Homo sapiens: one gene and its partners. The protein of the gene in region 2 purifies or fractionates together with the protein of the main gene of each other region. This does not show direct contact. Each region holds a gene or a part of one and is shown on either strand. Other genes may lie near its edges.

Region 1 (3,500 bases), on a different chromosome or scaffold from region 2:
GTTTATTAACTTTTAAGTACCCTTGTTGCTATGGTGGGGGTGCAATTAAATATGACAGATAATTTTTCCAAGGACAGATTTTTTAAAAATTTGATGTTACAAAATGACTCATAGATTGGCTTTTAACACTAAAATTTTTTTAATGCTATACGTCTTTATTTTATAAATATCTGAAACCCTGAATACCCTAAAATAAATTTCTCAAGATTGTTCTAAGTAGGTTAAAAGAAATAAACTTTCTTCTTTTACAGAACATTTTTTGAGGGGACATTTACTTCATTCCCCATTTGTTTCTTTTTGAATAATTTGCTGAATTTAAGATAAGAGCATTTCTGCATATAAAAAGTTCTCTTGTGTGGGGAGTATACATGGAAGTAACAGTATGGGATACAATGAGGGTGGGAGAGAAGTCTGGTTTTCTTCTCAGCTTCCCTTTATTGCACTCCAAATATGGGTTGGATATTTTGTCAGGGAGATGGCTGGGAAGAAATGGAGATTACAAGACATAAGTTTCTTAAATACTGAGGACTCCTCTTTATTATTGAATGATCTTTGGTGATTTTGTATCTTTGGGTGATTTTGTATCCAGTGTTTCGTTTGGTCTTATTAAAGATTATAGAAAAGTCATATCATTTGAGAGGTGAGAGATGTTTTACAGTGATCTAGTCAGGTGATTTTGTTTTGTTTTGTTTTGTTTTAAGCTTTTTGCCCCATGGGTAGAACCTTAAATAAAATGAGTGGAAGTGAGGCTGCTCCTTGTGAAATCAGGAATGAGGATCCTGTATCCTGGCTCACTTGGCCTTTACCCCTCTGCACAGGAGACAGTTCTTGAGTTTGAAAACTGCCGTTGTTGATCAAACTTCAATTTTATAAAGAATGCAAATTTGGGAGAAGTGACTTGTCTAGGGCCATATGCCAGTTAGTGATTGACATGGGGCTGCAACTCAGATCTTAAGCTTAGAGGCAAAGATTTTAAACAGGGCTGGAAAAAGATCAGGTTTACATATCTTAAAAGATTGAACTGAGACAATGGATGAGGGCAGGAGGGGCTGAGACTGGCACCTGCAGGATCAGTAGGAGACTATGTGAGATCCTGAACCCAGGCGCTAGAAAGGAGGGCTGTCACTAAATAGCCATTATCAAATAGGTAGGTTTGATAAGACTTGGTCACCTCTAGAAGTGGGAAGAATATGGGAGGTCGAGGCAGGAGAATCGCTTGAGCCCAGGAGTTCAAGTCCAGCCCTGGCAACTTAGTGAGACCCCGCCGTCTCTACAATTAAAAAAAAAAAAAAAAATTAGCTGGGCGTGGTGGCATGCACCTGTATTCCTAGCTGCTCTGGAGGCTGAGGTGGGAGGATTGATTGTGCCTGGGAGTTCAAGCCTGCACTGAGCCCTGATTGGGCCACTGCACTCCAGCCTAGGTGACAGAGTGAGACCCTCAACGACAACAACAAAGCGGAGAGAGCAGCGAAGGAAAGGGAGGAGTGGGGTGATCTCCACATTTCTGGTTTGCTGATGGGGTACAAGGTGAGCTAGATAACTCGGCTTATTTTGGGGTGAGTTGATTTGGGGATGTCTATGTGACTTTCATTAAGAGAAGCCTGATTTTCTGGTGGGATGTGGTTGGTGTAAGTATGGAAGTCTGGGGAAAATAAGACAAAGTATTAGATCACCAGCATTCAAGTGGCAGGCAAAGGAGATGAAGAAGGGACCTTCAGAGTGGAATGAGAAATTTCACCAATGCCAGATGTTGCATAAAGTTCAATGAAAGTGAGGAAGGAATCTGGTAGATTTTACAGTGAGCATTTCATATAATGCCCTTTGCCAGAACATTTTCAGTGGAATAGTGGAGATAGAACTCTCGATGTAATGGGGCGAAGTGTGAAGAGGTGGAGAAATTTAAATAGCATGTGTAGACTATTTTGGGGAACTTTGCTGTGAAGGACAGGAGACGAGGTGGTAACCACTCATAGACATAGGAGTGGGGGACAAGGTTTTTAAAAAAGAAGGTGTGAGAGGCTTAAGCTTATTTCTAGATAGGGGAAGGAGTCCCCCGTGTGGAGGAGGAAAATACCAGCAAGGGATTCAATCCCAGGAATGGGCTGTTATGGGAAGAAAGGAAAGCACTGCTTGGTGTTCATGCACATGTCACTCAGTCTGTCCGTGTTGAGCCACTACTTTTTCTTTTGAAAGCTACAAAGGGTATCTAATCCAACTCTGATACTTATATCAAGCACCTTTAAATAAAAGGTGGACTTTAAAAAAAACAGCTTTATTGAGATATCAGTCATATACAAAAGGTGGAATTTATCAGTTCTTTCTCTATACGTTCCCCCTTCCATTTCATACTGAAAACCTCATCTACTCTACCACTTACGGACATATTTTTTGTTGGTATAAACAGGTGGTTTGTTTTCCCTACTGCTGGAAGCGAAGAGCTTTTTAAGCAGGAGAATTACTGCTTAGCGCCTGAGAAATTCTGGACTGGGACTTCTGCTGTTCATATCAGCAAGTGATTTTTGTTGTTTTTGTTAAATTATCTCATCTACATTCTTCATCCTGAGTATTTGGCATACAAATTCCCCCTTTTGAGAGGGGAATGATGGATAAGAATAATATTAGCTGAAAAGACAGACTGAAAATCTGGGGACTTAAGTTCTGTTCCCTTTGTAACGTTAGCTAGTTTTATGACTTTAAACAAGTCACTTTGTTTCCTTATCTCTAAATGCTCTTGAAGATCCCTTCAAGACAGAATACTGTGCTTTTTTGATTCCTGTTTTGTGTAGCATTTTGTGGAAGAGTCACTGGATTAAGGTCTTTTAAAATTAATTTAAAAACATATATATCTCCAAATTACTAGCTTGATAATTTGTTAAAGAATACTTACTGATTTTCTTTACTAACAAAAGAATTTTTAATGACATACCAGTGGGTATTGAGAACACTTCAGCTACATTCACCCACAGTCAGCTGATATTTAGCTGATATTTAGCTGACTGCGGAGAAGTCATGTGTTTTGAATATAAGAATAGGCACTTTCAGATGTTCTCTGAGTGCCAGTAATTAGAGTAAGCCTTAATCCACTGTGCTAAAAATAACCAAACATACCTTTCTTCTTACTAGTCTATTATTAATTTTACTTCAGATTTAGACTTACAAATAGGCACTAAGAGAACAAAATGAGCTCATTATTGATTTTTTTAAAACCATTTGGTCCTAAATATAGGAAGTACACTTCAGGTTCTCTTGGTAATCTTTTACTAAATCAGTATGGCATATTTTACTTCTCTTCAAAGCTCTTAAAATATTGTTTCGAGCACATTTTAATTTTTGCCAGGTATGGGATTACGTTAATGCAATTGCTGGCTATAGTTTTTAATGTAAAACTTGGGCTCTAGAGTCAAATTGCTGTTCCTAGGCAGGTTACTCAAACCTGGGTCTCTTATCAATGCAAATAATAATGGTATCTCATGGATACGGTTGTTGTGAGGATTAGAGTG
Region 2 (4,267 bases):
AAGAAAAAAGGGATGTCATAAATTACCAGTTTCATGAATGCAATGGGCTAACATTAGCAGTAGAACTCAGCAATGTACACAAAGAATTACACAGCATGTCCCAGTGACGTTTACTCCAGTGACTGCACACCTAGACATTCATCCCACTGAAATAAAAACTTTTTTTTTGCACTTGCAATTGGCTTCCCCTCTGCTTTTGTTGGCAAGAGCAGGTCGGTGTCCCAGGCTTAGAATCCATTTTTCTCTCTCTCCGTCTGTCTCTCTGTCTCCGTCTCTGTCTTTGTCTCTGTCTCTCTCTCTCTCTCTTTCTTTTTTTGACAGAGTCTTGCTTTGTCACCCAGGTTGCAGTGATGCGATCTCGGGCTCACTGCAAGCTCCGCCTCCCAGGTTCACGCCATTCTCCTGCCTCCCGAGTAGCTGGGACTACAGGCGCCCACCACCATGCCCGCTAGTATTTTGTATTTTTAGTAGAGATGAGGTTTCACCGTGTTAGCCAGGATGGTCTTTATCTCCTGACCTTATGATCCGCCCGCCTCAGCCTCCCAAAGTGCTGGGATTACACGCGTGAGCCACAGTGCCCGGCCAGAATGCATTTTTCCTCCCACACCAAAGCACCTGCAGTATGGGTGAAGCAGCCTGGAGCCTGGCTGCATAAGCCTGCACAGCAGGAGGGTCCCAGCAGGAGGGTAGAGGTGCCACTGCCTGGGTCCAGCTCACAGGCTGCCAGGGAGGCTCCGATCTGGCTCCCTGGTGCTGGCAGTGTCCTGTTCCCAGGATCTGCACGTGGGGGTGCCTTCCTGCATCTCCCCATCAGTGGTAGGTGCTCCTCCCAGCCCCCTCTTGCAGGCCTGGAGACAGCGGCCTGCACCTCAACCCTACTGCATGCCAGTGAAGCGAAGCACCCCGGGCCAGAAGCCCCACAGCTGTTGGCCCTGGTTTGGACACCAGGCAGGGGGCACCACAGCAGGAGCTAGCAGCCCAGCCCCGATTCTGTGGCCCCGAGTGCCCCGTTGCTGATGGCCCTGTGTTCTGGGTGCGGACCAAGGAGGAGCAGGTGTGGAAGGCGCCTCAGGCAGGCCCTGGGCTCCGTGGGCGTCTTGTGCTCGGAGATTTTGAGGCCATTTGCATCCAGCTCCGCCAACCAGAGCTCTAAGCTGCAGCGGCGGCCACCCGCAACAGCGCCACCACTAGTGTCTTGGGGGCTTTCTTCAGAGGAGGCTGTCAGCATCCTCGAGTTCCAGGCGCTCTAGCCCCAGTCCTGCTTCAAGAGGCTTTTTCCCACCACAGGCTTCTCTCCTCAGTGGCCAGAAAGCTGGGCCAACTCCCATGAACTTTGCCAGTAACGCAAGGCTGTCACTGACATTTGTGGCGCCAAGACTTGCGCACGCGGATTGCACACATCGGCCACTTCCTGGACCACGTGCAATGACACGCGCACGCCTCACGCACACGCCGCATAACGTCTGAGGCGCGCGCCCCGCACGCGCGCCCCGCACGCGCATAACGGCTTGGCTTACCTGTAACGGGTACACTTCGCTTCGCGTTCCTCGCTTGGCCTTGCGTTCCTAGCTTGGCTTGGCTGTTAGTAGCTTTGCCTGGTGTTTCTTGCTTGGATTGGCGTTTCCTCCCTCGCATTCCTTTGCTGGACTTGACCTTTTCTCTGCTGGGTTTGGCATTCCCTTGACTGGGCTGGGTGTTTCCTTGGGAGGGGGGGCTTGGCCTTTCCTGGGGTGGGCGTGGGGTCCCCCTGGTGGGCGTGGGCTTTCCCCGGGTGGGTGTGGGTTTTCCCTGGGTGGGGTGGGCTGGGCTCCCTTGCTGGGCTTGGCAAGTTTTGGCTGGGATTGACCTTTCTCTTCAAACAGATTGGAAACCCAGGGTTTCCTGCTAGTTGGTGAAACTGGTTGGTAGACGCGATCTGTTCGCTACTACCGGCCTCCCCTGGCTGTTAAAAGCAGATGGTGGCTGAGGTTTGTTCAATGCCCGCTGCCTCTGCTGTGAAGAAGCCATTTGATCTCAGGAGCAAGATGGGCAAGTGGTGCCACCACCGCTTCCCCTGCTGCAGGGGGAGCGGCAAGAGCAACATGGGCACTTCTGGAGACCACGACGACTCCTTTATGAAGACGCTCAGGAGCAAGATGGGCAAGTGTTGCCACCACTGCTTCCCCTGCTGCAGGGGGAGCGGCACGAGCAATGTGGGCACTTCTGGAGACCATGACAACTCCTTTATGAAGACACTCAGGAGCAAGATGGGCAAGTGGTGCTGTCACTGCTTCCCCTGCTGCAGGGGGAGCGGCAAGAGCAACGTGGGCACTTGGGGAGACTACGACGACAGCGCCTTCATGGAGCCGAGGTACCACGTCCGTCGAGAAGATCTGGACAAGCTCCACAGAGCTGCCTGGTGGGGTAAAGTCCCCAGAAAGGATCTCATCGTCATGCTCAGGGACACTGACATGAACAAGAGGGACAAGCAAAAGAGGTAACCGGGCCTGGGATGGGAGGAGGCGGGACATGGGGGGATGATGGGGACATACCCTCCTGGCGCAGGGAGGGAGGAGCCAGGCTTTCTCTTCCTCCGCAGGCCCCACACCACCCTGGGTGTGGAAACCTCAGAGATGTCAGGGCCCAGGTCCCTTTATAAACAGCAACACAAAAACAAAACTTTAGCTGATTTCCAATCCAATTATAATTTCCCTTATAGAACACTAATAGACGGTTTTAAAGTGATTTAACTCGCAAAATTAAGTCGATGCAGCAGATTATTTTTAATGTACACATTTTAAAACAATGTTCTATACACTATAGAAAGGTGTATATTGAGAACTAAGTCCCATAATATATCAACTTCTGGGCTAAATATTTTTCAAATAAAATCCAATATGGATTTTATATCGATGTGTACCCTATGTAAACACGTTCTTTACTGAGTAACCTTAAAAGGAAACTGAAATGGGAAGTATGGTTCATATCTTTGAATAGGAAGGTTCGTTTTTCTTAAGATGTGAGCTTTTTCTGTGTTTATCACTTTTACATAAGCCAAATAAAAATAGCAAAGTCTTAGTGTCTTTAAATTGCACATGATGTATTTTATCATTGTGATAAATTGATTTTTTGTAACAGAATGGAAAAAGACTTGCTTTTCCAGATATCAAAATGTGCGTGTGTTATTTCCACAAATTGTTTACTAACAGCTGAAAAGACATAAGTGAACAGAACAGAATAGGAAATCCAGAAATACCCAAATATATGTAAGAATTTAGCACTTGATAATGGTGATGTTTCATATTGGTAAAACAAGGTGAATTATTCATAAATTAAATGCATGCTGTTTGGAGAAAACTACCTAGATTTTTATGTCACAAAAATAAGTTCCTGGAGTATAGATTAAAAATTTTAAAGATACAAAAGGAGAAAAGTACCAGAAGAAAACACAAATGCCTATTTATATGTGCAAATATTTATTTATTTTTCTGAGACAGACTCTCACTCCATAGCCCAGGCTGGAGTGCAGTGGTGCAATATCAGCTCACTACAACCTCTGGTTCCTGGTTCAAGTAATTCTTTGCCTCAGCCTACCAAGTAGCTGGGATTACAGGCACCCACCACCATGCCTGGCTAATTTTTTGTGTTCTTAATCAAGACGGGATTTCACCATCTTTGCCAGGCTGGTCTTGAACTCCTGTCCTTGTGATCCACCCACCTCAGCCTCCCAAAGTGCTGAGATTACAGTCATGAGCCACTGAAACCGGCATATATATGCAGATATAATAAAATAAGCTCAATTTAAAATTGGGCAAGGTACTTTTTTGCATGTCTACCAGTGACCTGTGTACATAGGAAAACATAGCATTCCTGCTAAGAGAAGGAATTTAAGTTAGAAGAGGAATGAAAGACTATTTTCTGTTTAAGTTAGAAGAGGAATGAAAGGCCAGCCATGGTGGCTCATGCCTGTAATCCCAGCACTTTGGGAGGCCAAGGCAGTTGGATCACGAGGTCAGGAGTTTGATACTAGCCTGGCCAGCATGGTGAAACCCATTTCTACTAAAAATACAAAGAATTAGCTGGGCATGGTGGCATGCACCTGTAATCCTAGCTACTCAGGAGGCTGAGGCAGGAGAATTGCTTGAACCAGGGAGATGGAGGTTGCAGTGAGCTGAGATTGCACCACTACACTCCAGCCTGGGTGATGGAGTGAGACTCCATCTCAAAAAAATAAATAAATAAAAATAAATAAATAAATATAAAGGAATGAAATACTGTTTTGTGTCCA
Region 3 (3,947 bases), on a different chromosome or scaffold from region 2:
TCAGCACGTCAGTCAGGGATTCATCCAAACCTTAATGGCTTAGCATTTTCCTCAACTGTTTTATTTGGAGCAAAATCGCCACGAAAGTCATTTTTAAGGGTCAATTCAATTTTATGATAATTTATATATTATGCCAGACGCTTAAAATATGCCTATTACTACCCTAAATTCCATTCTTACAGTACTAGGCTGCATTTTAGACATTTGCTGCAAATGACTTTATCTTGAAGTCTACGTGATTACACAAATTATTATAAATACTCATGACAGATTTACTGAGGTGTAGGCAAGGAAATTAAAAAATAAATTTTATTAATTACTGTATTTTATGTTTAAATTATAGTGTCTCCACTTCCGTAACATTGCTCCGCAGTATCCCACCTAGAGGGACCTGCTTTCACGCACATCTCCCTATTTTAAACAATATCCTTTCATCCCAAATCTGTAACTAGGACAGTTGAGAGTCAGTACCAAAATCTTTGATGATATTTGAAATTCTTTTACATAAAAAAGTAAAGGCACAAGCACTTTTTCTTCTACTTTTCCACTCCCCACGTCCTCTCCAAGCCTAAAGACTCTTAGGCACTGAGAAGGAGTCTGCACTGCGGGATGCCCACTGGAATTACCTACTGTGGGCTGAATCCGCCCCACACTCTCGAAGGTGCTACAACCCTTGCTCTCACCCGCGGCCCCCAGGCCTCTCCTCCAGGCATTCTTGAGCCCAGGGAAAAGCGAGGACGGGACCACGGCCCCGCTCGGCCTAGATCCGCCTTCTTCCCAGGTGAGCGTCGCTGTCCTCCGGGATCGCTCCTCGCCCCAGACCAGGAGCAGGGTGTCGGGACTTGTAATTGCCCCGTAGCCCCGAGGGCGGGCAGGAAAGAAAGGCTTTTTCATACTCCGCTGGGAGAGAGCAGGGTGTTTGAGTTCAGACAGGTTCCGAGCGCTTTCTGGCTGTTCGGGGTTTGGCGTGCCACCACTTGGGACTTGTTGTAACCCGTCTCCACTCCCGCCCCCTCCAGCGCTGCACCTTGTCTCGGGGAGGCGCGGTTCGAGCCGGAATCAGCCTCCCTCCGCGGACCTGACGCTGGGCAGGTAACTCCCCTCCCCTCCCTGCCCGCGCCCAGGCGCTTGCTGCTTCCTGGGAGGCAAACCTTCGGCGGCCGGCGCTGTGCGGCGGGCGCGGTTGCGCGCGGCTTGGGGCAAGTAAGTGGGGTTTGGGCTCCCTTGCCCCGGACCTCGGCGGACGGGACCCCAGCGGGTGCAGGGTTGAGGTGCTTGGGGTACTGGGGGGGCCCGGGGCTTCACCCGCCCCTGGCCGGCGCGGCGGACGGGAGGGATAGGGGACTCTCCCTTGGGAGCGCAGGCGGGATTGGAAATTCCACAGGGTGTAAAGCTCAGTTGCTTCAGTCTTTTCTACGTTTCTTTCATTGTCGTGGGGGTTCGAGTGAGTTGAGAAGTTTGAAAAGTTGTCTCGGGCGGAGTCGGTTTGGGTCCCCAGAGGACTGGCGCCGCCCCTCGTGGAGGCTGCATTTGTTTCCTCTTTTCCAGTGTAGGAGTGCGCCGAGGACCCCGGGAGGGGAAGCGGGAGGAGAGACCGCTGGGAAAAGTCTCGTGGGAGGAAGTCCAGGGTGGAAGCAGAGGGCATGGGGGTGGGGGGTTCCGGGAAAAGGTGGGAGAGCTTAGGTCGCTGAGGGGCGTGGGTGTTCTTTAGATCCTGAGTGGGGAGCAGAACTTGAAAAGACAGTTTTTTCACACAACCTCTTAATTGTACAGGATCCCGTTTCTGAGTGCAGACTGGTAGCGACCTGTGTTTTTCATACTTGGGTCGGCCTGAGTCTGGGTCTGTGTGCCCTAGCAGCTCTCCAGGAGAGCCTGTACCTACCAAAGTTTGAGAACCACTGCTCTAGATCCTGGTGAGTGATCTAGAAGAGGAGAGTAGGCCTAGAGCAGATTGCTCCTGGAACGGGACTTGGAGACTTTTGGCCTATTCTGTGTGATATGTGGGGAGACTTACCTGTGTAAGGTTAATGGACAGGCAGAGAATGCCTGTGTTCATTGCAGGAGTCATAGGTATGTAAAGAGACAACAGCGCTTTCTTTATAGGAGGAGGCTGGGAGGTTATGGAAACACAGGTTAGCATGTTGTCTATGCTCGGAGCGGTGAAGTTATAGGGTCTCTCTGACCTAGAAGTGGAAATGAGAGCTCAGGCGGCCAGAACACTTAAGAAGAAGGTGTGCGGGTGGCAAGCAATTGAGGCTAGAATTTAATGCTCAACAGCTTATGTCCAAATTCCCAGTTACAAACATCTTGCTAGGTTACTGGCAGGCACCTCCCTTCTTTCCCTTTCTCATCCTAACAAGTGCAAGAGCCCCGAGGAAATCCATGACTGAGGCTGAATCATTGCTGACAAGCAACAGGAAGGGAGAGAGTGATGAAAGAGACTTAGAAGAGAAAACTGGGGTTTTTTGTTTTTTATTGGAGTGGGGGTGGGGGTGGCGGTGGGAGGCTCAAAATGATTGGAGAATGAGAATAATGTGAAACAGAATGATGGAAGGTTGGGAGTGCAGGTCTTTGTTGCGTTTGTTTCTCTCTGTCTTCCTATAGTTCCCAGAAAAGTAGAAGTCCCCACACCTTCCAATTGCAAATTCCACCCCCTTGCCTTTGGGGCTCAGGCACACGTGGGGTATACACCTATTTAGGGTGCTGGCTACACCCTCTAGAGCCTGCCTAAGGGGCTGGGTGGATCCTGCCTTTAAAGCTGGCAGGCTTTAGACCGCAGATGCTGAGAATTTATTGTGGGAAGCATTACCAGTTGAACAGTTGCTGAAAGAGATTGTATAGATGGAGACAAACCACACCTCTGGTGCTGACTCAGTGATGTCTTTTACGTTTATGCCCTTGAGTTTATGACGCTAACTGGCTAAACTTTTTTGGGATGAAGTAATTAATTTTATTAATCTTTCTATTTTATTTCCTCTACCGTCCACCGTTCTTTATAGGTTAAGGTGGAGGTTCATTCACTGAGTATTTTCTTGACCATGACTCACCTTGCAGCAACTAACCTACTTGTTTCCCATTTAATTACATTATACAATACTGAGTTGCCAAAATGTAATGTTATTATACTTTTAAGTGTCCAGAATCTTGGGGTGAAACTGTTATCCCATCAAAGCGGGACTCTTCTAATACATAAATCTGGTTGGAGGAGACCTTTTGAAAAGAGGCCACTTAGCTTAATTTAATGAATTATTGGTAAAATTTCAAGTTGTCCTTGTTTATCTAGTTAGGTAAGTTTGCACGTCTGTCCCTTTATAAGTTGCAAAATGTGAATGTCCCATGGATGTTTCACAATTCACCTTTTTAAACACAATGTTTTGTTCATTTTGAAATGTGCTTTTGTTCCTTTAATTTCTGATCTGGAGATGGAATGTATTTTAGAATTTTGTTGTTGAATTTATCATCTGAACATCAGAATACATCCGCTCCCCCATGGAAACAGAGTTCTAAATGATGGTTATTCACAGCCCAGCTTTAAGGATGCCGTAGATAAAAAGTTGTACAAATAGCACTTAAACTCCATCAAGAATCAAAGCCAACAACATTTCTCTGAGAAAATGTGTTAGAGCCTTCAGTGGGAGCTTCCTTCCCACTGAGGTGTGCCAATGGGCATGGGCACTGTCTAGAAGTATCCTGGCCCCTAAGGGTAGAGCAGGCTTCCCAAGGGGATTGGGAGGCTGAGTGCTGTGGGCTCCTGAGACAAGAGCTGGGGGAAATGGTAGGCTCCAGTGGAAAGGATATACGTGGAGGTGAGGTGGAGTGGGGGGCAAGTGGGCTGTATGCTGGGGAGGAGGGTGCACTAAGGAGGCAGGGGGCTAACATGTACAGAAGGTAGGGGTGGGTGATGGAGGGGGCAAAGGATGTTTTCAGGGGCTGTGATGCTGTAAGGA
Region 4 (4,020 bases), on a different chromosome or scaffold from region 2:
AGACAGAGGAGGAGGAGGAGAAGGAGGGGAAGAGGAAGGAGAAGAGGAAGGAGAAGAGGAAGGAGAAGTGGAAGGAGAAGAGGAAGGAGAAGGAGGAGGAGGAGAAGAAGAGGAAGAGGAAGAGGAAGAAGAAGAAAGAAGAAGAAGAAAGAAGAAGAAGAAGGAGAAAGAAGAAGGAGAAGGAGAAGGAGATGGAGGAGACGGAGGAGGAGGAGAAGGAGGGGAAGAGGAAGGAGAAGAGGAAGGAGAAGGAGAAGGAGAAGAAGAAGAAGAAGAAGGAGATGAAGGAGATGGAGGAGACGGAGGAGACGGAGGAGGAGGAGGAGAAGGAGGGGAAGGGGAAGGAGAAGAGGAAGGAGAAGTGGAAGGAGAAGAGGAAGGAGAAGAGGAAGGAGAAGGAGAAGGAGGAGGAGAAGAAGAGGAAGAGGAAGAAGAAGAAGAAAGAAGGAGAAGAAGAAGAAGAGGAAGAAGAAGAAGAAAGAAGAGGAAGAAGAAGAAAGAAGAGGAAGAGGAAGAGGAAGAAGAGGAAGAGGAAGAAGAAGAGGAAGAAGAAGAAGAGGAAGAGGAGGAAGAAGAGGAGGAGGAGGAGGAGGAAGAGGAGGAAGAGGAGGAGGAGGAGGAAGAGGGAGAGGAAGAAGAGGAAGAGGAAGAGGAAGAAGAAGAGAAAGAAGAAGAAGAAAAAGAAGAAGGAAGAAGAAGAAAGAAGAAGAAGAAAAGAAGAAGAAAAGAAGAAGAAGAAGAAAAGAAGAAGAAAAGAAGAAGGAAGACGAAGAAGAAGAGGAAGAGGAAGAGAGAAGAAAGAAGAAGAAGAAGAAGAAGAAGAGAAGAAGAAGAAGAAGAAGAAGAAGAAGAAGAAGAAGAAGAAGAAGGAAGAAGAAGAAGAAGAAGAAGAAGAAGAAGAAGAAGAACAAGAAGAAGAAGAAGAAGAAGAAGAAGAAGAAGAAGAAGAAGAAGAAGAAGAAGAAGAAGAAGAAGAACAAGAAGAACAAGAAGAACCAAACCAGGGTAGATGAAGACAAAGTTAAAAAGAAAGAAAAGGCTGGTGCTGGCAGAGAGCCTTCTGCTCCGATTTGAGGTGTATGCATTTTATGCTGTAAAGCGTGGCCAGTCACAGGAGGATTCAAAGGCGAGGAGAGATATGATCAAATCTGCACTTGGGAAAGCGCACCTTGGTGCGCATCTGGGGATAGAGGAACGTAGGGATGGGAGGATGGGGGATGGGAGTTTGGGGATGAGGCAGCTGAAGAACAGAGTCTTGTGATGGTGGAACCAGGACTTCGTTGTTCCTTCATTGTGTGGGCAGAAGAGGTGGAGGATTTTAGGCGCCACCTGGTCTTGTCCCCACTGCCCAGGTATAGCTGCTGTCTGGAGCAGGGGCCTCGAGACGCCGCTCAAGTCTCACGGGCAGATGGGTTGGACAAAACATTGCCCCCCTTCTTCTTCCCAGACAGGCAGGGAATCCCTCTTCTTCCTTTTGCTGAATCAGCTGGAGAAGAAAGCCCAGCAGGAGGCCTGCTAGCCTCAGCCTCGGGCCCTACCAGGGTCCTAGGTACTGGAATGGAACTTCGCCGAGGTCACCGCTCAAACGGCCACAACGAGGGAGCCGATTTAGATCCTCTGGGCCTGTTCCTTCCTTTTCTTTAAACGTCCCAGTCTAGCTTAGAGGAGGACCTGTTTTGTGTAAGGCTTGCCGGAGCAACCAGCACCTTTCCTGGAATACAGTCTTGTTTGTGGCTTTTCCTTTGTTGTACGCTAGCGTGCACTATCGCCCGCACGCTGACTGACCCCTGTTCTACACCGCCCCTGATACCACTGAATAGGGAGTTTGAGAAGTTTATGTCGTGCCCCAGAAAACACTAGTGGCCTTGTTCTCAAGATTAAATATCCTTAGAGCAGCCAGATCTGAAGAGGGACCCCAGAAAGATCCACGGGCATGTTCATTTGTTTGCAATTGATAATATAGGAAACACTTTCTAATATTTCAGGAAAACAAAACCTTTAAAAAAACCAGACGACGTGTAACTCCTAACATTCTTACCTTGCTTCAGGACTGTTGGGAGGATAAGATAGTGTGGCAGCTATAAGCATTTAGCATAGAGCCTAGCATACAATAGTCCTTCCATGACATTAGCTTCTCTCTCCCCAGCAAAGATGACACTGCATAATCCAATGTACAGTGGGGAAATTTTTCACTAGTACATTAAGATGTTATTTGCAGTTAGAAAGAATGAATACTGTAATCCCAGCACTCTGGGAGGCTGAGGTGGGAGGATCACGGGTCAGGAGGTTGAGACCATCCTGGTTAACACGGTGAAATTCTGTATCTACTAAAAATACAAAAAAAATTAGCCCGCCGTGGTGGCGGGTGCCTGTAGTCACAGGTACTCTGGAGGCTGAGGCAGGAGAATCGCTTGAACCCAGGAGACGGAGGTTGCAGTGAGCCCAGATTGTGCCACTGCACTCCAGTCTGGCAACAGAGTGAGACTATGTCTCAAAAAAAAAAAAAAAAAAAAAGAACAATGAATAAGACCTAGTATTTGCTAGCACAAACAGGTGACTGCAGTCAAAAAATCTAAATTGTACATTTTAAAATAACTAAAAGAGTATAATTGGATTGTTTGTAACACAAAGGATAAATGCTTGAGGTGATGGATACCCCATTTACCCTGATGTGATTATTATGCATGGCATGCCTGTATCAAAATATCTCAGATTTAAATACACAAATATTTAAGTACATAAATACAGAGATACATAAATATATACACCTACTATGTACCCACAAAAATTAAAAATTGTTTTAAAAGATGTTATTTGCATGCATAAAGAAAATGTTATTTAAATTTCCTACTTAAAAATTTTTCTTTCTTTTTCCTATGATAGTAGATAAATGGCAAGCAAAAAACGAGAAGTCCAGTTACAGGTGGGTCTGACATATCAACAATTCTTTATCTGGTGCACTAGTGCTTGAATACCTTTTACAGTGCCTTCCACTTTGCAGACAGTCATCAATAATCAAAGCCTGTGGGATGAGATGTTGCAGAACAAAGGCTTAACAGGTATAAGGACTCCCCGGCTGTCTGGCCACCTGGGGTTTGACCCGGAGCTCCTCCTGGCACCCTGTCCCTCTAGAGTCCCCACTTTGACCAAGAAATCCTGCAGTGCCTTTGCCCTGGCCATGGCTCCAGATTGGGATAACTGCTATCCTAGATTGGTAGACTTTGTTATTTCATAAATATCATCATCTTCTAGTGATTGATGTTTACCAAGCCTGGTGTGGACCTTGCAGAGCAATGCAACCTTTATTCAGAAAATTGAAAAATGAACTGAACGAAGACGAAATTCTGCATTTTGCTGTCGTAAGAATTTTGTTTTCATTAAACCACTGTTTTCACATTATATTAAGTTTTTAAGTATCCTCTAATACTTTAAGTATTGTCTTAATTTAAACAACCTGTCAGTTCTTCAAAATAGATAGTCTTTACTTGGCAGTTTTACTATATATTTAATTCTACTAGATCTGAGAATGAATATGATTTTTATCCCATTCTTATAACGTCGAGGCTATTTACCATGACTGTGAAAGTCAGAAAAGTGTAATAATGGACACATCTATTGTTCTGTTTCCTTTCACCTGACCACATGTTCAGTGTGTGTCCTTTAGAATAAGGGCTACAAAAGCTGTTTACTGGGTATCATTGAGTAGTGCCCTGGCATTAACCCAGTTACCATATTTTCCAGTGGCAATGATTTTTCCTCATTTATTTGCTACCTACTTGCAATAAGGGATTAAAATATTATAGCCAAACACATTTTACTGAATTGTACTGTTTTTTCAATCTATTCACATAAAATGATCAACTAATTAGAATTTCGTTGTCCAACATGGTAGCTACTAGGCATAAGTGACTATGGAGCTCTTGCAATGTAGCTGGTCCAACTGAGGAGCTCAATTTTTAATTTTAATGAATTTAAATCTGGATTTTCAAACTGATACTCCATTGAGTTATTGTAAAACTT
Region 5 (3,500 bases), on a different chromosome or scaffold from region 2:
GGACACCATCGAGCTCACCCGGCAGGTTAAGGAAAAGCTGGCCAAGAACGGCATCTGCCAGAGAATCTTCGGGGAGAAGGTAAGGGATCTGCTCTGGGGGCTTTGGTTCTCCCATCTCTTCTCCTTGCTGAGGACCAAGTATCTATCCCGCAGCCTGTGACCCTCACCCATTTCAATTCACCCAAGAGCAGAGCGTAAGGCATCCTCTGCTCCCAGACTTCCAAGGTGCGGCTGGTGAACATTGCAGCCCCGATCCCATTTGCCGAGCCCCGACTGCAGCCAGGTTCTAGGCTCAGCCTTTCACCTGCATGCTGCCCTTTCGACCCCTCACTTGGCGCTGGGAAGTGGATGGTAAAATCCCCAATTGACAGGGAAGGACACCAAGGCTTGGGGACGTTAACTACTTGCCCCAAGCTGACCGGCAGCCGAGTCCACATCCAGCTTTTGCTGCCAAGGGGAGCTGAGAGGCACCCCTGCAGGCTTCCTTGGCCAAAAAAAATCCCATCTGATCACACAGAGGGACCACCAGTACGCAGAGAGCCAAAAGGGACTTACTAGAAAAAGCTGCAGAGAGCATTATTGTTCCTTTCTGTGTAACTCTTGGATATTGTTCAGTCAGAGAGGTCAAGCAACCTGCCCGGGGACACACAGCTTGGGGATGGCCCAAGCAGGGTGGCCCGTGTTTCCCTATCATCCTTCCCTGGCTCAGGAAAGTGTAATCGTGCATGGACGAGCTTCTAGGCCTTTCTGTTCTTGGCACTTTCCTGGTCACTGAGATTCAGGAGAATGAGGGTTAACCGTGCCTGCCAAATCTAAAATAAACATCATGTCCTAGTATCATTTTATTTATTTATTTTTTGAGATGGCGTCTCACTCTGTCGCCCATGCTAGAGTGCAGTGACGCTATCTCGGCTCACTGCAACCTCTGCCTCCTGGGTTCAAGCGATTCTCCTGCTTCAGCCTCCTGAGTAGCTGGGATTACGAGTGCCCACCACCACACCCAGCTAATTTTTCTATTTTTAGTCGAGTCAGGGTTTCACCATGTTGGCCAGGCTGGTCTCCTGACCTCAAGTGATCTGCCTGCCTTGGCCTCCCAACCCCCTACCATTTTAGATTAAATAACGGAGTGCTGAATAGAAGGAGAAGCACCCCTCTCCCCTAAAAGGCACCTTCCTGAGGGAGCACGTGGCTGGATCAGCAGGGGACAAATCCCACCCCCTCCCCTGCCAAGCCAGGGTCCCTGCATGGCGCCGTCCCCGCACTCCCCACCCCGCCTTCCACTCAGTGTTTGCCGTATGCTGTGCTGTGAATCCCGGTGGTGTCCGATGGCGAACTTTGCCCTGATTTTGCAAAAGGTGAAGGGGGGCGACTAGAAATGAGGATGAGTATTTCAAGTCCCTTGAGATTTCTAGTTCAGTGTTGTAAAAATACCATTTGAGAACATTGAAATAGACATTCGTGCTCATGCCTTAAATTTAGCAGAGACTTAATAACATTGAACTTGTTTGGCCCGTGAGTGCAGTTTTATTCTGGAACTTGAGAACTTTTCAAAAGAGTGATCGGATGCAGCCCCTAAATATCCCAGGGCGGCATCTGTGTCCTGTGGGGGGTGTTTGTGCCTATACATATGTATGGCCATATGGGAGCGTCAGAAAACTCGGGTGTGTACACGCAACTCGGCAATCATCTGCGGCGGAATGTCACTCCCAGGCCGGCTCCCCAGGTCCCACCAGCTCACCTCTGGGCCCCCACCTTTGATCAGGATGTGGTCAGAACAAGCAGACCTTTCTAAATGCTGGCCTGGCTCAGCGTTTGCAGAGGACACCAGCTTCGCCAGTCCCACCGGCACCCACTGCCCCACCTCTGGAGGGATCTTGTCCCTGGAACCTTAGCCTTTCCCGGTGCCACCAAGTGAAGAGCAAGGTGCTTGTACACACCTCCTCCGCGGGGTGTCAGGGTGACAGCCCTGCCATCTTGGCAGGATCAAGACCCTGGGATGAGACCCTCTTCCCTCCCTGGGAGCTGAGAGCTGTGGCTGTAACCATGGCTCACCCGAAAGTCCCCCTGTGCCGGGGTCTCAGCCACCGTTGATCTTTAAATGCATATTCCCTGCCCACAAGCTGTCACCGCCACCAGGCCGTGGTTCTGTGCTCAGAAGTCAGCCCTAGACGCGCCCTCTGCGTGGTGGGTGTGCATTGCAGCAGCATCTGTGGTGTCATGCTAATAGCCAGGCACTGATGGCCTGTGTGTTCGGTGCCACTCCAGGTGCTGGGCCTGTCCCAGGGCAGCGTCAGCGACATGCTGTCCCGACCGAAGCCATGGAGCAAGCTGACGCAGAAAGGCCGAGAACCCTTCATCCGGATGCAGCTCTGGCTGAACGGCGAGCTAGGCCAGGGTGTTCTACCCGTCCAGGGCCAGCAGCAAGGGCCAGGTAATGGGGGTCCTGCCACAGGAGAGGGGCTGCCCCCCCATAGCAAGGACCTGGTCACAGCAGCCCCACCTGGGCTATGCAGAGAGGGAGGAGGGAACTCCGCCCCAGGAGGTGGCCAACCACACTCCCCACCGTGGGCTGGTGCTGGGGGACAGAACCGTCCCCTTCCTCCACAACCTGTTGCCGTGGGACTGACTTCAGTGTTTAGGAGAGATCATGCCTGTCTAATTTTATAAGCAGCAGAAAATGAGTTACCAATTTAAAAAATGCTGTTTATACATAAATACAGGTAAAAGTCAAGTAGCTGAATCAGGGAGTCAGGAAAGAAAGTCAGCCAAAGGTACAAAAGTGGAAGATGTCACAGGCGAAACCTTTCACCTGCTCCCGGCCCGGGGGCCTGGCCTTGCAACAGCAGCGCCTCCCCGGCCCGTGGGTCCCCATGCCCGCCCCTCCCCAGGAGGAATGGGAAGCCTCCCCGGGCCTTGCCACATTCAGTTAGGAAGCTTTAAGCCCTGGGCCGCGTTCCTTCCTTTAATTATAACCTTTTTCTACTTTAGTCCTCCACTCCGTGACATCGCTCCAGGACCCGCTGCAGCAGGGCTGTGTGAGCTCAGGTAAGCAGCCAGTTTCTGTTGCTTTTGCATGAAATGTCTCACTGCCTTTTCTGTTGTCCCGTGCTGTGGTCTGTCCCGGCGAGACTCCGAGGGACCGCACATTCTGGATTTGGGGAGCTGAAATATGGCATCCTATCTGCAAACGGGGTCCCTCTCTGTGTCAGTTTCTAATGGAGAGCGAGCTGACAGTGCATGGAGGGACTCTGCCAAGATTTGCACGCCCACTGTCATCCTTTGTCGGCCCAGAGCCTTGTGTTCAGGGCTGGGGTCTAAGTCGGAGACAGATTCCCCACTCAGGGGGCTTACCGTCTGATAGGAAGGGATAAAGCACGGGCACACGTCCCTCTCCTGGTGGGGTCATGTCGGGGGACTTCTTATCTAACCGGAAGACATCCAGGCAGCCTCTGAGCAAGAAAATGGGGAGCTTTGAGCTTGAGCAGTGGGAAAGGTAGGGT
Region 6 (3,500 bases), on a different chromosome or scaffold from region 2:
ATGTTGGTGGCTTTGGCAGCAAAATGTCTTACTGGCCTGGCTGTTGGGCTAAGGAAGAAATTTGGACAATATGCAGGACATGTAAGTAACACTCCTTTTTAGATACAGATCAACAAAATTTATCAAAAATGGTAGGCCTAGTTTGCTGTTTGCTTTAAAACAACTCCTTGGCATAGATGTGTATATACTGTACAAAGTAAATTTCTCTCTGTTTTGTTAATATTCAGCATAGATATATCTTAGAAATTTCAGTAGATGTCAGTTGTAACAAAATTTATAGGCCTTATGTAGAAAGTCAGGCACTAGGCCTAAAGTACTTAGTTGAGTTTATTTATTTGCTTATTACTTATTTACTTACTAGTATCTTGCTTTGTTCTTACAACATTATACACATCATAACAAGATGAAACAAAACTTGTAACGACCAGGACCAGAATGAAAATGAGAGTCGGAAAGGCAATGTAAAACTATAAATGTAAAACTGTGAGGTTAATATATAAAATGTGTTTTACATTGTTTTCCTATTTTAATATATAATTTACTTACATATTTGAGACATTTTATATAGGTTACAATGTTATATATTTTATATAGGTTATCTCCGTTTTACTTATTCAAAGAAAATCTGACTGGAGACATTTGTTGACTTACTATTTGTATAAGTTTGTTTCCAATCAAATTTGGTAATAATTTTAATTAAGATGTTTTCTTTAACTGTGGCATCTGTCCTTTGGCCTCTAAATCCGGTCTGCATTACTAAGAATGGCTCAGCATCCTAAAAATTGACCTTATTGATCTTTAGAGTTTAGCTTGCTAGCCCCTTCATCATTTGATTCCCTAGACTGACTTAGGAGTTTCCTAATAGTCCCTAGTCATGTGTCCATTTTATATTGTGAAGCTAATACCTAGCCTCACATGAGCTATGGTATTTGGAGCTTGCTTACTCATAGCATTAAAAATAATCTCAGAGAACTTAACTGAAGAAAAAGAAGACACTACCAAATAAAAATAAATCATGACTGGCTTATTACTAGGGAAATAAAAATAAGGGTCTGTAAAACCCTTAGACATATACATCATAAATTGAAATAAAATTAAAATCTATTTTTATAGCAATCAATATTATATAATATCGATGTGTATATGCCATTTTGATCAATTTTATATTACTTAGGATATTTTACACTTTTATATTGGGAATAATTTTTCAAGATAAAAAACAATTTTTTCCTACACCACTTAAATATCAGTTCAGAGAATAATTTTAGTTTTTTTTTTTTGAGACAGGGTCTCACTTTGTCACCCAGGCTGGAGTGCAGTGGCACCATCTCAGTTCACTGCAGCCTTAACCTCCTAGGCGCAGGTGATCCTCCCACCTCAGTCTCCTGAGTAGCTGGGACTTCAGGCACACCCCACACCATGCTTGAGTACTTTTTGTATTTTTGGTAGAGATGGGGTTTTGCCACCTTGCCCAGGCTGGTCTCGAAATCCTGAGCTCAAGCTATCTGCCTGCCTCAGCCTCCCAAAGTGCTGGGATTACAGGCTTGAGCCACCACACCCGGCCTAAAATTCATTTTAATTTACCAAATTATGGTTGGATAATTAACTGGCTTTCCAGTTTGAGTTCTGATTCTGGCTTTGTTTCAGTTTGTTGTCCTGGTTAAAGAATGTCTCTATTGCTCTGTAGTTTGGGGTCTCCCCCACCTTAATACTGTAATATATGCGGTGTTTAGTATCAAGCATGTTACTGACTTGGCTTTATTTTCTTTAAATGTTTACAAACTTTTTGGCAATATTTATAAAAGTGAATGTTAGCTTTATAGACATTAAAATATCTTGATTTTCAAGTTTATAACTAGTATTAAAAAGTCTTGTATTTTTCCATGGGAACCATAGTCCTTGAACTATACCAAGTAGTCTATAACCACTTCTGTGAAATCTTGAAAACAATTATTTCTTGTTTTTGGATGCCATTGAGCTTTGCTGTGTCCTTTGGACCTTAGAAATTTTCTTCCCCAGCCTGGGCAACATGGAGAAACCCCCGTCTCGACAAAAAATAAAATAAAAAATTATATTTACAGGGAAATGGTCAAGAAATTAAGAATTAAAAAAAAAAATAGCAGGTGTGGTGACATATACCTGAGGCCTACCTACTCGGGAGGCTGAGATGAGAGGATTACTTGAGCCCAGGAGGCCGAGGCTTCAGTGAGCCATGTTCATCCCACTGCACTCCCACGTGGGTGACAGAGCAGAGGCGGCAAATAGGTTGAGAAGCACTGCCATAGTGGGAGAGAATGAGAATTCTTCATTGTTCCGGCATAAGATACGATGTCCTTCATGAAAGGAAATGACTTTTTATTCCACTTAAATGTTTGCTTTATTGGTTTGTTTTGGTGGAGACAAGGTGGTTTTTTAGAAAGTAAGTTTTATTGAGATAAAACTTGCATACTATAAAATTTACCCTCTTAAAGTGATTTTAGAATATTCACAATGTTACATAACCATCAGCACTATCTAATTCCAGAACATCTTCATCACCCCAAAAAGAAACCCCTTGCCCATTAACAGTCTCTCCCCATGCTGCTCCCTGCCCTTGACTCTAGCAACCACTAATCTACTTTTTTGTCTCTGGATTTAACATTTCATGTAAATGGAGTCATACAATACATGGTCTTTGTGACTGCTTTTTTTTTTTTTTTGGAAGACAGGGTCTTGCTGTGTTGCCCAGGCTACAATACAGTGATGCAGTCGTAGCTCACTGCAGCTTTGACCTCCTGGGTTCAAGTAATCCTCCCACCTCAGCCTCCCAAGTAGCTGGGATCATAGGCACATACCACCACACCTGGCTAATTTTTTTTTGTTTGTTTTAGTAGAGACAAGATCTCACTCTGTTGCCCAGGCTGGTCTTGAACTCCTTGCCTCAAGCAACCCACCTGCCTCAGCCTCCCAAAGTGCTGGGATTACAGGCATGAGTCACTGTGCCCAGCCTGTGACTGGCTTTTTTTTTAACTTAGCATACTATTTTTAAGGTTCAGCCATGTTCTAGGATATATCAATATATCATTCCTCTTTGTTGCTGAATAATGTGCTAGCCATTCACTTTTACAGGTTGTGCCAACCATCTTGGAGAAATTCAAAGAGAAGAAACCTCAAGTGGTACAAGCCCTGCAGGAGGCAATTGATGCAATCTTCCTTACTGTAAGTTGACAGCATGAGTTTGTAGTTTTATCTGAAGTAAAGTTTGTAAATATAATATTTTGATTGTTCTTTACAATTGAAAAAAGCTCATTAACCACATTTTCTTTCTAAAGACCACACTACAGAACATCAGTGAGGATGTTTTAGCAGTAATGGATAATAAAAATCCAACCATCAAGCAGCAGACATCTCTTTTTATTGCAAGAAGTTTCCGCCACTGCACTGCTTCTACCCTGCCAAAGAGCTTGCTAAAGCCCTTTTGTGCTGCACTACTTAAGGTACAGACTCTCTTTGAAGTTGGG
Region 7 (3,500 bases), on a different chromosome or scaffold from region 2:
TCTTCCTGAGGAGGAAACTGAGGCTCAGAGAGATTAAGCCACTTGCCCAGGGTCACACAGCTGGTAGGTGGTAGAGCTGGGTTCTATGCCCAGAACTTTTGCCTTTAATTCCTGTTGTATGACCCGAATGAGTGGGATGAATAGAACTGTCAAAATAGGATGTGTAAAGCCAGTGGAGGATGTAAACTTCAGAGGATGCCACAAATTCAGAAAGAACGCTTCTCATTTTTTAAATCACTGTGTTCAGTGGGTTTCAGCCATGCCCTTTACCAAGAATAGCCCACAGCTTAGACCATCATTAAAAGGGGTGGGGTGGGAAAGGCAGCAGGAGAGTAACTGGTCTTCTCAACCCCCTCACAGCAATGACTTCCCAGGAACTGGTGTTTCAGGGTCTCACATCCTAGTAGACCAGGCCCTGGAGTGTTGGAGAAAGACAGCCAAATTGCCTTTTTGCCTCTTCATTCCTTCTTTAATCCCCCAAATCCTTAAGGAGTCATGACTGTCATATACTGTCCTAAGTCCTCTGGGACCACAGAAATGACTCAATCCCATTCAAGAGCCTTTGCTGCAGGAGAAGGAGTGAAACCCATAAATGAATAATCCTAACTTTCAGAAAAAGAGTTAATGTGATTCTGAGAGACAGGCTTTTACTGTGGAAATGGGGAGGAAGGAGAAACCCTTATATCTCCAGACTACAGAAGAGCCCCCAAGCCTCGGCTTCCTTAGTTAACACCCCCAACTTCTGACTCAGTTTGTCAGGACCTGTTTCTAAGCCTGGAGGTTTGGACACCCCCACTGCCCTGCCAGGAGTTTGCTGAGGACCTTGGTTTTAAGCCTGCAAAAGGTGTGATTAGAGGCATTGTGGCAGGAGCAGCCTGTCTTTAAAAGAGCGAGGAAAGCTAGGCGGTGTCTCCCTGTGTTGAACTGTCTGGACGGCTCCAGCTCTGGACTGGTAAAGTGAATAAACGAGCAGATACTAAGGGATCCTTTGTACCTTGCACTTTATGTAACATAGTCATTTAGTTCTCGATACAACCCTATTTTGCAGCTAAGGAAACAGACATTTGAAACAGCTGTAATTTGCCCAGGAATGCATGGCTAAAAGGTAGCTCTTAATTGTAGTCTGATGCTAGGTGTGGAAAATCACTTGGGAGGCATGAATGGAGCCATGTTGTTGGGGAGAAGAAAGGCCTGTTCTGAGCTTAAGGGCAGAATCCTTAGGAAATATTTCCCTGTTCTTTGCTGTGGGCTTGCACTATGGACGGATACCAAAGAACTGCAGAGAGAACCTTTTACTGAGGAGAGGCCAGTGCAGTGGAAGTCATTTGGTTAGAACCTGCCCAACAGACAGCTGATCAGGCCTGGCTGGTAGAAAGAACAGAATGTTAACAAATATGGTATGCAGTGTTAGGGAGGCAGAAGAAGGGAGAATCCATGGGCCTGCTTCGATTGCTTTCGAGTCATGAGTTGGTGGTGAATGGGACAGGCCTTAAAAAAGTCAGAGATTATGATTCAAAACCAGACAATAATTTAAAAAATAGATTTCGAGAATGCTACCCTCCAGAAGGGCCCTCAGAGAGAATCTGAGGTTTTATTTACTTGTTTAACGGACAGCAAACTGAAGCCTGGTGGGGAAAGCAACAAGCCAAAGATGACAGTGTGTTACCCACAGAACCAGACAGCTTGCTGATCTGAATAAGCCTGTAAGACAGGAGTTTAGTGGAGGAATAGAAGGTGAATGGAGCAGGTTCATAAGAGAGCAAGGCAGTGGATTGATCTGTATTTTTGAGAAACCTCCCAGCATGGAGTTGGGAGTGTTAGCTAGGCCAAGTCAAGATTTCTAGGACACGGGGCCCAAGTGTCTTTGGAGATGCAAAAGAGTCCATGGTGAGGGGGGCACCAACACTGCAGAAGGGGGAGGGAAGGATAACTGTTGGATAGGGATCATTTCCCAGTTCTGAGTGGAGTCCAGAGTCCAGAGAGCGTGCTGTAAGGTGGTGTCCTATAAGCTTATCATGTGCTCTTCCCTGTTTCACCTGTAGGTGATTGCAGTGGTCATGGACGTGTTCACAGACATCGACATCTTCAGAGACCTGCAAGAAATATGCAGGAAACAGGGAGTTGCTGTGTATATCCTTCTGGACCAGGCTCTCCTCTCTCAATTTCTGGATATGTGCATGGATCTGAAAGTTCATCCTGAACAGGAAAAGGTTTGTGGTACACTATATCCAGTTTCACCATAGTCAACAAATATGACCAAGCATCCATTATCTACAAGCTGGCTGGTGGCGGTATCCCTGTTTACAAGGAAGGGACTGAGGCTGTGAGCAAAGTCATTTGCCTGGTCTTACAGAAAACAAACAGTACCTGTGACCTGGCAATTCTCCTAGGTGTCTACCCAAGAGAAATGAAAATATGGGCCCCCACAAAAATTTATGTGTGAGTTTTATAGAAGCATTATTCATAAAGCCAAAGAGTGGAAACAATCCAATGCCAATCAACTGATAAGTGGATAAATGATATGTTGTCTATTCATACAATAGCATACTATTCACCTATAAAAAGGAATGAAGTGCTGATACATGCTACAGCATGGATGAACCTGCAAACGTGCTAAGTGAAGGAAACCGGTCACAAAAGACCACATATGATATGATTCCATTAAGTCAGAATAGGGAAATCTATAGAGACATTGATTAGTGGTTGCCTAGGGCTGGGGAGTTGGGGGAAGGACGGGATTATTGCTAAAGGGTACTTTATTTTAGCACTTTCTTTTTAAACTGATGAGAATGTCCTAAAATTGACTAACGGTGATGATGGTTGCATATATCTGTGGATATACTAAAAACTACAGAATTTGTGTTAATTGTATGATCTGTGAATTAGATCTCAGTTAAGCTCTTTAAAAGAAATGTTAGGATTCAAGACCTTGGCCTCTCCCCTGTACTGTCCTGCCTCTTAATAGAGCCTGGACCAGCTCCCTTGTTGAAGGCCTGAAGGCCACCCTGGAAGTTGCTGCTTTTGACAGTAGCTCCAGGAGGCTGCCCTTTTAATCACAGCAACCAGTATTTTTTGAGCCCCCACTCTGTCTTTGGCACTGCTCCATGCTTTTTTTTTTTTTTTCCTGAGATAGAGTCTCACTCTGTTGCCCAGGCTGGAGTACAGTGGCCCAATCTAGGCTCACTGCAACATCCCTCTCCCAGGTTCAAGAGATTATCCTGCCTCAGCCTCCCAGTTAGCTGGGATTACAGGTGCGTACCACCACACCTGGCTAATTTTTGTATTTTTAGTACAGATGGGGTTTTGCCATGTTGTCCAGGCTGGTCTTGAACTCCTACCTCAGATGATCTGCCTGCCTCGGCCTCCCAAAGTGCTGGGATTACAGGCATGAGGCCCCATGCCCAGCCTGCTCTGTGCTTTTAACAAATGTTATGTAACTGAATCCTCAAAGCAGCCCCTATCAGGTAAGTGGCACCTGTGTTTTAGACCAGGAAATAGTG

The links.
Region 1: the proteins of POTEB3 (region 2) and AP1S2 purify together in Homo sapiens (co-immunoprecipitation; 2 studies listed by BioGRID and IntAct, with this or other methods). This does not show direct contact.
Region 3: the proteins of POTEB3 (region 2) and FAM83B purify together in Homo sapiens (co-immunoprecipitation; 2 studies listed by BioGRID and IntAct, with this or other methods). This does not show direct contact.
Region 4: the proteins of POTEB3 (region 2) and NME8 purify together in Homo sapiens (co-immunoprecipitation; one large-scale study listed by IntAct). This does not show direct contact.
Region 5: the proteins of POTEB3 (region 2) and CUX1 purify together in Homo sapiens (affinity purification with mass spectrometry; one large-scale study listed by BioGRID and IntAct). This does not show direct contact.
Region 6: the proteins of POTEB3 (region 2) and CKAP5 purify together in Homo sapiens (co-immunoprecipitation; 2 studies listed by BioGRID and IntAct, with this or other methods). This does not show direct contact.
Region 7: the proteins of POTEB3 (region 2) and FAM83D purify together in Homo sapiens (co-immunoprecipitation; 2 studies listed by BioGRID and IntAct, with this or other methods). This does not show direct contact.

What each region holds. Positions count from the first base shown.
Region 1 is NC_000023.11:15,848,314-15,851,813, reverse strand, and holds part of AP1S2 (AP-1 complex subunit sigma-2), read left to right. Parts: intron 1-3,500. UniProt on the Homo sapiens protein: Subunit of clathrin-associated adaptor protein complex 1 that plays a role in protein sorting in the late-Golgi/trans-Golgi network (TGN) and/or endosomes.
Region 2 is NC_000015.10:21,437,700-21,441,966, reverse strand, and holds the start of POTEB3 (POTE ankyrin domain family member B3), read left to right. Parts: upstream 1-1,467; 5' UTR 1,468-1,955; coding exon 1,956-2,476; intron 2,477-4,267.
Region 3 is NC_000006.12:54,845,624-54,849,570, forward strand, and holds the start of FAM83B (protein FAM83B), read left to right. Parts: upstream 1-1,147; 5' UTR 1,148-1,203; intron 1,204-3,945; exon of another isoform or gene 3,946-3,947. UniProt on the Homo sapiens protein: Probable proto-oncogene that functions in the epidermal growth factor receptor/EGFR signaling pathway. Activates both the EGFR itself and downstream RAS/MAPK and PI3K/AKT/TOR signaling cascades.
Region 4 is NC_000007.14:37,847,377-37,851,396, forward strand, and holds the start of NME8 (thioredoxin domain-containing protein 3), read left to right. Parts: upstream 1-1,220; 5' UTR 1,221-1,352; intron 1,353-1,447; 5' UTR 1,448-1,680; intron 1,681-2,883; 5' UTR 2,884-2,890; coding exon 2,891-2,923; intron 2,924-3,001; coding exon 3,002-3,059; intron 3,060-3,252; coding exon 3,253-3,359; intron 3,360-4,020. UniProt on the Homo sapiens protein: Probably required during the final stages of sperm tail maturation in the testis and/or epididymis, where extensive disulfide bonding of fibrous sheath (FS) proteins occurs.
Region 5 is NC_000007.14:102,202,126-102,205,625, forward strand, and holds part of CUX1 (Homeobox protein cut-like 1), read left to right. Parts: coding exon 1-79; intron 80-2,265; coding exon 2,266-2,431; intron 2,432-2,988; coding exon 2,989-3,045; intron 3,046-3,500. UniProt on the Homo sapiens protein: May be involved in intra-Golgi retrograde transport.
Region 6 is NC_000011.10:46,797,781-46,801,280, reverse strand, and holds part of CKAP5 (cytoskeleton-associated protein 5), read left to right. Parts: coding exon 1-81; intron 82-3,108; coding exon 3,109-3,198; intron 3,199-3,311; coding exon 3,312-3,476; intron 3,477-3,500. UniProt on the Homo sapiens protein: Binds to the plus end of microtubules and regulates microtubule dynamics and microtubule organization. Acts as a processive microtubule polymerase. Promotes cytoplasmic microtubule nucleation and elongation. Plays a major role in organizing spindle poles.
Region 7 is NC_000020.11:38,939,917-38,943,416, forward strand, and holds part of FAM83D (protein FAM83D), read left to right. Parts: intron 1-2,042; coding exon 2,043-2,210; intron 2,211-3,500.